Homo sapiens: one gene and its partner. The protein of the gene in region 2 interacts with the protein of the main gene of each other region in a pairwise test. Each region holds a gene or a part of one and is shown on either strand. Other genes may lie near its edges.

Region 1 (3,822 bases), on a different chromosome or scaffold from region 2:
ACTTTGGGAGGCCAAGGCGGGTGTATCACTTGAGCCCAGGAGTTTGAGACCACCCTGGGTAACATGACAAAACTGCAACTCTACAAAAAATACAAAAATTAGCTGGGCCTGCTCGTGCGCGCCTGTACTCTCAGCTACTTGGGAGGCTGAGGTGGGAGGATCGCCTGAGCCTGGGGAGGTCGAGGCTCCACTGAGCCGTGATCATGCCACTGCACTCCAGCCTGAGCAACAGAGAGAGAGACCATGTGTCCAAAAAAAAAAAAAAAAAGGAAAATTTGACACACGGCACACATGGACAAACCTTGAGGACATTATGCAAGATGAAATAAGTCAATCACAAAAAGATAAGGATGAATATGGTATGATTCCATATATATGAGGTATCTAAAGTAAGTCAAACACATAGAAACAAAGGAGAATGGTGGTTGTCAGGGAATGGGAGGATGGCAAAAAATGGAGTTGTTGTTTCATGGGTATAGAATTTGTTTTGAAAGAAGAAGTAGTTCTGGAAATTGGCTGCAGAACAATGTGAATATACTTACACTACTGAAGTCTACACTTAAGAATGGTTAAGATGGTAACTTCTTTGCTATGTGTATTTTACCACAATTAAACAATTTTTTAAAAATCAACCGTATTTCTATATGCTGGCAACAAACAATTGTGAATTTAAATTTTAAAAAATTACATTTATGTAATGATACCATTTACAATAACGTCAAGAAATATGAAACGGAATAATCTGACAAAAGATGGGAAAGACATGTCAACTGAAAACTACAAAACTCAGCTGAAAGAAATTACAGATCTAAAATAAATGGAGAGATACTACATTCATGCATCAGAAGACTTGATCAATTCTTTCCAAACAGATCTTCACGGCAAAAGAATACCAATAACAATCCCAAAAGGCTTTCTTGTGGAAATTGCCAGGCTAATTCTAAAATGCAAAGACCCAGAATCACTAAAACGACTTTAAAAAATAACAAGATTGGGGGACTGTTAGTTTTCAAGTCTTATGAACCTCCAGTAATCAAGACTGCAGGGTACTGATGTAAAGACAAATAGATCAAAGGAACAGAATAAAGAGTTCAGAGACTGACTAATATATGGACAATTGATTTTTGACAAAGATGCAAAAGTAGACCAGGCATGGTGGCTCACACCCATAATCCCAGCACTCTGGGAGGCCAAGATGGGTGGATAACGAGGTCAGGAGTTCGAGACCAGCCTGGCCAACATGGTAAAACCCTGTCTCTATTAAAAATACAAAAATTAGCCAGGTGTGGTGGCGTGCGCCTGTAATCCCAGCTACTCAGGAGGCTGAGGCAGGAGAATCGCTTGAACCTGGGAAGTGGAGGTTGCAGTGAGCCGAGATTGCGCCACTGCACTCTAGCATGGGCGATGGGACAAGACGCCATCTCAAAAAAAAAAAAAAAAAAAGATGTAAAAGCTATTCAATGAATAAAAACATATTTTTCAGCAAATGAACAACTGTTCATAAACAAATAATTTCCATCCTTATTTTGCACCATATAAAAATGTAATCAAAATTAAACACAAACCCAATTGTAAAATCTAAAACTATAAAGCTTCCATAAACATAGAAGGAAGGCCAAGCACAATGACTCACGCCTGTAATCCCAGACTTTGGGAGGCCGAGGCAGGTGGATCACGAGGTCAGGAGATTGAGACCATCCTGGCTAGCGCGGTGAAACCCCGCCTCTACTAAAACTGCAACTCTACTAAAAATACAAAAAATTAGCCAGGCGTGGTGGCGGATGCCTGTAGTCCCAGCTACTCGGGAGGCTGAGGCAGGAGAATCGCTGGAACCCGGGAGGCAGAGATTGCAGTGAGCTGGAGATTGCAGTGGGCAGAGATTGTGCCACTACACTCCAGCCTGGGCGACAAAGAAAGAGACTCCGTCTAAAAAAAAAAGAAAAAATAGAAGGAAATTCCTATGATTTGGGATTAGGCAACAATTTCTTAAATATGAAACCAAAACCCTGATCTATAAAAGAGCAAATTGATAAATTTCATCAAAATTTAAAATTCCTGTTCTTCAAGACACTGCTGAGAGAATGAAAAGATGGACCACGGCCTAGAGAGAATGTATTTGCAAATCATTTGACGAGGGACTTGCATCCCAAATATGTAACGAATTCTCAAAACTCAATTACAAGAAAACAACCAACCAACAACAACAACAAAAAATAGGCAAAAGACAAGAACAGACACTTTGCCAAAAGGGATATACAGAAGACATATAAGTTTAGGGAAGTTGGGCACATGGCTCACACCTGTAATCCCAGCACTTTGCGAGGCTGAGGCAGGTGGACGACTTGAATCCAGGAGTTCAAGACCAGTCTGGGCAACATAGTAAGACCCCATCTCTATAAAAAATTAAAAAATTAGCTGGGTATGGTGGCATATGCCTGTAGTCCCAGTTACTCGAGAGGCTGAGGTGGGAGAATTACCTGCGCCCAGGAGGTCAAGGCTGCAATGAGCCAAGATCACGCCACCGCACTCCAGCCTGGGCAACCAAAGTGAGACTCTGCCGGAGGAGGAAAAAAAAAAAAACTTATGGAAAGATACTGAATGCCACTAGCCATAGGGAAGCACAAATTAAAAGAACAATGAGACATCACTAAAGACCAATTGGAAGGGCTAAAATTGGCCAGGTGTTGGTAAGGATATGGATGAACTAGAATTATCATACAGTGCTAGCTGCAATGTACAACTGTACAATTACTTTTAAAATAATTAGTTTGGCAATTTATTTTATTTTATTATTTTTTTAAAGACGGAGTCTTACCATGTTGCCCAGGCTGGTCTCAAATCCCTGGGCTCAGGCAATCCTCCTGCCTCGGCCTCCCAAAGTGCTGGGATTACACGCATGAGCCACCATGCCCAGCCAACAGTTTCTTAAAAAGTTAAATACATCTACCATATGACCCAGCCATTTCACTCCTATTTACTTTTAAAAAAGTGTATTCTGTACAAAGATTGGCACACAGATGTTCACAGCAGCTTTATTTGTAATAGCCAAAAACTGGTGAGAAGCCGAAAGTCCATCAACAAGGGAATGTACAAATCGTGGTTCATCCACAAATGGACTACTACTCAGTAATTAAAAAGAATGAACTACCGATTTACATAACACTGATAAATCTCAAAATAATTTATGCTGAACTTTTTAAAAGCCAAAGAGGAGAATATGCTGTATTTATAAAATAACAAAAAAAAAAAAAAGCTAGAAAATTCAAACCAGCTGGGGGCAGTAGCTCACGCCTGTAATCCCAGCACTTTGGGAGGCCGAGGCGGGCGGATGGTCTGAGGTCGGGAGTTTGAGACCAGCCTGACCAACATGGAGAAACCCCGTCTCTACTAAAAATACAAAATTAGCCTGGCATGGTGGCGCATGCCTGTAATCCCAACTACTTGGGAGGCTGAGGCAGGAGAATCACTTGAACCCAGGAGGCGGAGATTGTGGTGAGCCGTTATCACGCCATTGCACTCCAGCCTGGGCAACAAGAGTGAAACTCCATCTCAAAAAAAAAAAAAGGGGGAAGAAAATTCAAGCCAATATATAGTGACAGAGTAGATAAATTATCGCCTGGAAATGGAGGTGTAGAGGGAGGTAAAAAGAAACATTTGAGGGTGATGAATATGTTTACTATCTTGATTATGATAATGGTTTCACAGGTGTATAGATATGTCACAACACAAAACTGTGCACTCCAAACACACAGTTTATTTTATGTCAATTAAACTGAATAAGGTTGTTTAAAAAAGACAAGCAAATACAAAGCTAACTATAAA
Region 2 (3,822 bases):
AAAGATGTCTTAAGTTGTCTCCCAAGACTAATCTCCCTCTTGACTATTGACCAGTGCCGTAAACCTCTAATCTAATTGCTATCACTCACATAAGAGGAACAAATAGAAAAAATTACTTTTTTCTTTTTTCACAGATTGACTTTTGTGGCCTCTAAACTCAACTTTGGCAATGTGTACCTGCTGCTGAAGTTAATGACTTGTGTAAGCATCCCATGTCTCAGAAGACTTTCTGAGTGCTACCAGTCACTTGAGGGACATTGAATCTTGGTAAAGCATAAAAATACTTATAAAGTTATCCATTTTGCTCTTATGTATTCACAGATTGTTTGGAACAAATGAAAGCCAAAAACTGGCCAGAAAATGCTGGCTAGAAAAAAACAAAACAAAACAAAAAAAGCCTCCTCCTACCTCCCAACTTTAACTATTTAATGGAACAGCCATAGGAATTCATTCCCAGACCAATCAAGCATCAGAATGGCTCCCACGAGAAAACTTAAAGTTAGTTACAGAAAATGCTGTACCTGGAAAGGAATCCAGTGGCAAATAAGGATTAGTAAGAAAGCCAGTGCAGACCATGACAGCATCAAAGATGGCTGACTCTTGCTTCTCTTCATGCATAGTGACCACCTCCCATTGGCCAGAGACAGCAGAATCTGAGCATTTTGTTACACTGCAGACTTTGGTCTGAAAAAAGAATCACAGATATGATTAGCAGTTGTCAATGTTCCATTAAGCACTTGCCAGTTGATGTACCATTGATATTTTAAAAGTTCTAGAACACAGAATAAACATAATTAATAAGTATAACCCTAGAAACCTAATCAGGTTACCGGACTAATCATGATTCCCTAGATGGAGGTAGTCTAAGCTTGGAGAGATATCTAAGACAAGTGGTGGCATCCAAAAATTTTAAGTGATTTGCTCAAATTCTCACAGAAAGTGACAGAATCAGAATTAGAACCTAAGTTTCTGATGCCTTTTTCATTATCCTTTCTGTTATGCAACCTCATTTCTCACAGGGCTGTCTCTTTAACAAAAATTTCTTTGACAGATACATGGGTAAGATATAATTGAAAACCTGAATTTGGTCCTGTGTATATTAGCTTATGAGGTTTTATAGAATATGTTGCTGAAGTTTTTCCAGAACTAGAAAGCAATTGAAAAGTGCTAACATTATGGCCTGAATTTTTTTGAGAGTAGTCCACATTTCAAAGAATCTATTTTTTGCTCTTAGTGAGTACATACATGTCCATGATTACCAGGCTTTGGTTCAGGAAATATATGTACAATAAATCTCAGACAAGTCAAATTTAAAAGGATAAATTATTCACTCACCAAGTGGCTTGCTATCTTTCTTTCTTTTTTAAAGTTTTTAAAGAATATAGGCTTCTTAAGTCCCTCTTAATGGGTTCGCTATTTGATTTATACTATTTGAAGTGCTTATTGTGTTTCTACATTTGTAGTGCAACTGTCTTTTCTAAAAGTAAATTTTCAGTTAGTTTAAAATCTTTCAAAATAGATTTATTTTTAATCATAAAAATAATAAATATGTAGCCTGGGCAACATGGCAAAATCCCATCTTTACAAAAAAAATACAAAAAATTACCCAGGTGTGGTGGCCCATGCCTGTAGTCCCAGCTACTCAGGAGGCTGATTTGGGAGAATCACCTGTGCTTGGGAAGTCAAGGCTTCAGTGAGCCATGATAGTGTCATTGCACTCCAGCCTGGGCAACAGAGTGAGACCTTGTCTCAAAAAAAAAAAAGCTTGTCATTAAAAATTTGGAATATATACAGAGGAATGAGAAGCAAAACCAAACAAAATCAACTACAGATCACAGCTGAGTAATAGCTATTTGTGTTTACTTTTTTTTTTTTTTTTTTGAGATGGAGTCTCGCTCTGTTGCCCAGGCTGGAGTGCAGTGGTGCAATCTCGGCTCACCGCAATCTCCGCTTCCCTGGTTCAAGAGATTCTCCTGCCTCAGCCTTCTGAGTAGCTGAGACTACAGGCCCATGCCACCATGGCTGGCTAATTTTTTGTATTTTTAGTAGAGATGGGGTTTCGCCGTGTTAGCCAGGATGGTCTTGATCCACCCACCTTGGCCCCCCAAAGTGCTGGGATTACAGGTGTGGGCCACTGCACCTGGCCTTGTGTTTACTTTTTAAAACTTTGGTGAACATCTAGCTTTTTAAAAATTGTTCTAAAATGGCCTTGTGCCTGGCAACAGTGGCTCATGCCTATAATCCCCACCCTTTGGGAGGCCAAGGCAGGAGGATAGCTTGAGCTCAGGAGTTCAAGACCACCCTGGGCGGCATAGTGAGACCTTATCTCTACTAAAAATTAAAAAAAATATAGCCAGGCATGGTAGTATGTGCCTATAGTCCCAGCTATTAATAGTGGGGAGGCTGAAGTGGGAGGATTTCTTGAGCCTAGGAGGTGGAGGCTGCAGTGAGATAAGATCCTGCCACTGTACTCCAGCCTGGGTGACAGAAACTTTGTTTCAAACAACAACAACAAAATAAAAAAGGTCTTGGGCAGCATGTGGTAAAGGAAATGCTTCAAATTCAGAAATTTTGATGCATTAAAAAGAAGATTTTTATATGTTGTATATATTCATTATGATAATGCTTTATTTTTACTGTGTCCATTGCAAAATAAGGAAGTGGAATAAAATACTCTTTGGAAATCTGTTTAGGAGGATGTATTAGTCCATTTTCACACTGCTGATAAAGACAGACTAGAGACTGGGCAATTTACAAAGGAAAAAGGTCTAATGGAGAACTCACAGTTCCATGTGGCTGGGGAAGCATCACAATCATGGCAGGAGCAAAGAGGAGCAAGTCATATCTTACATGGATGATGTCAGGCAAAAAGAGAGCTTGTGCAGGGAAATTCTGCCTTATAAAACCATCAGATCTTGTGAGACTTATTCACTATCACTAGAACAGCATGGGAAAGACCTACCCTCATGATTCGGTTACCTCCCACTGGACCCCTCTCACAACATGTGAGAATTCAAGATGACATTTGAGTGGGGACACAGACAAACCATATTACTCTACCCCTGGCCCATCCCAAATCTCATGTCCTCACATTTCAAAAGCAATTATGCCTTCCCAACAGTTCCCCCCCAAGGTCTTAACTCATTTCAGCATTAACTCAAAAGTCCACAGTCCAAAGTCTCAACTGAGACATGGCAAGTCCCTTCCACCTATGAGCCTGTAAAATCAAAAGTTGGTTAGTTACTTCCTAGAAACAGTGGGGGTACAGGCATTGGGTAAATACAGCCATTCCAAATGGGAGAAATTGGTCAAAACAAAGGGGCTACAGGCCCCATGCAAGTCCGAAATCCAGCAGGGCAGTCAAATCTTAAAGCTCCAAAATGAACTCCTTTGACTCCATGTCTCACATCCAGGTCACACTGTTGCAAGAGGTGGGTTCCCATGGTCTTGGGCAGCTCTGCTCCTGTGGCTTTGCAGGGTACAGCTTCCCTCCTGGCTGCTTTCACAGGCTGGCATTGAGTGTCTGCAGCTTTTCCAGGCACATGCAAGCTGACAGTGGATCTAACATTCTGGGGTCTGAAGGATGGTGGCCCTCTTCTCACAGCTCCACTAGGCAGAGCCCCAGTAGAGACTCTGTGTGGGGACTCTGACCCCACATTTCCCTTCTGCACTGCCCTAGCAGAGGTTTTCCATGAGATCCCTGCCCCTGCAGCAAACTTCTGCCTGCACATCCAGGCATTTCCATACATCCTGTGAAATCTAGGTGAAGGTTCCCAAACCTCAATTCTTGACTTCTGTGTATTGCAGGCTCAATACAATGTG

What was found.
Region 1: the proteins of FMO1 (region 2) and SLC71A2 interact in binary tests that used the Homo sapiens proteins (3 or more experiments, as listed by UniProt).

What each region holds. Positions count from the first base shown.
Region 1 is NC_000009.12:94,380,783-94,384,604, reverse strand, and holds part of SLC71A2 (hippocampus abundant transcript-like protein 1), read right to left. Parts: intron 1-3,822.
Region 2 is NC_000001.11:171,272,208-171,276,029, reverse strand, and holds part of FMO1 (flavin-containing monooxygenase 1), read right to left. Parts: intron 685-3,822; coding exon 522-684; intron 1-521. UniProt on the Homo sapiens protein: Broad spectrum monooxygenase that catalyzes the oxygenation of a wide variety of nitrogen- and sulfur-containing compounds including xenobiotics.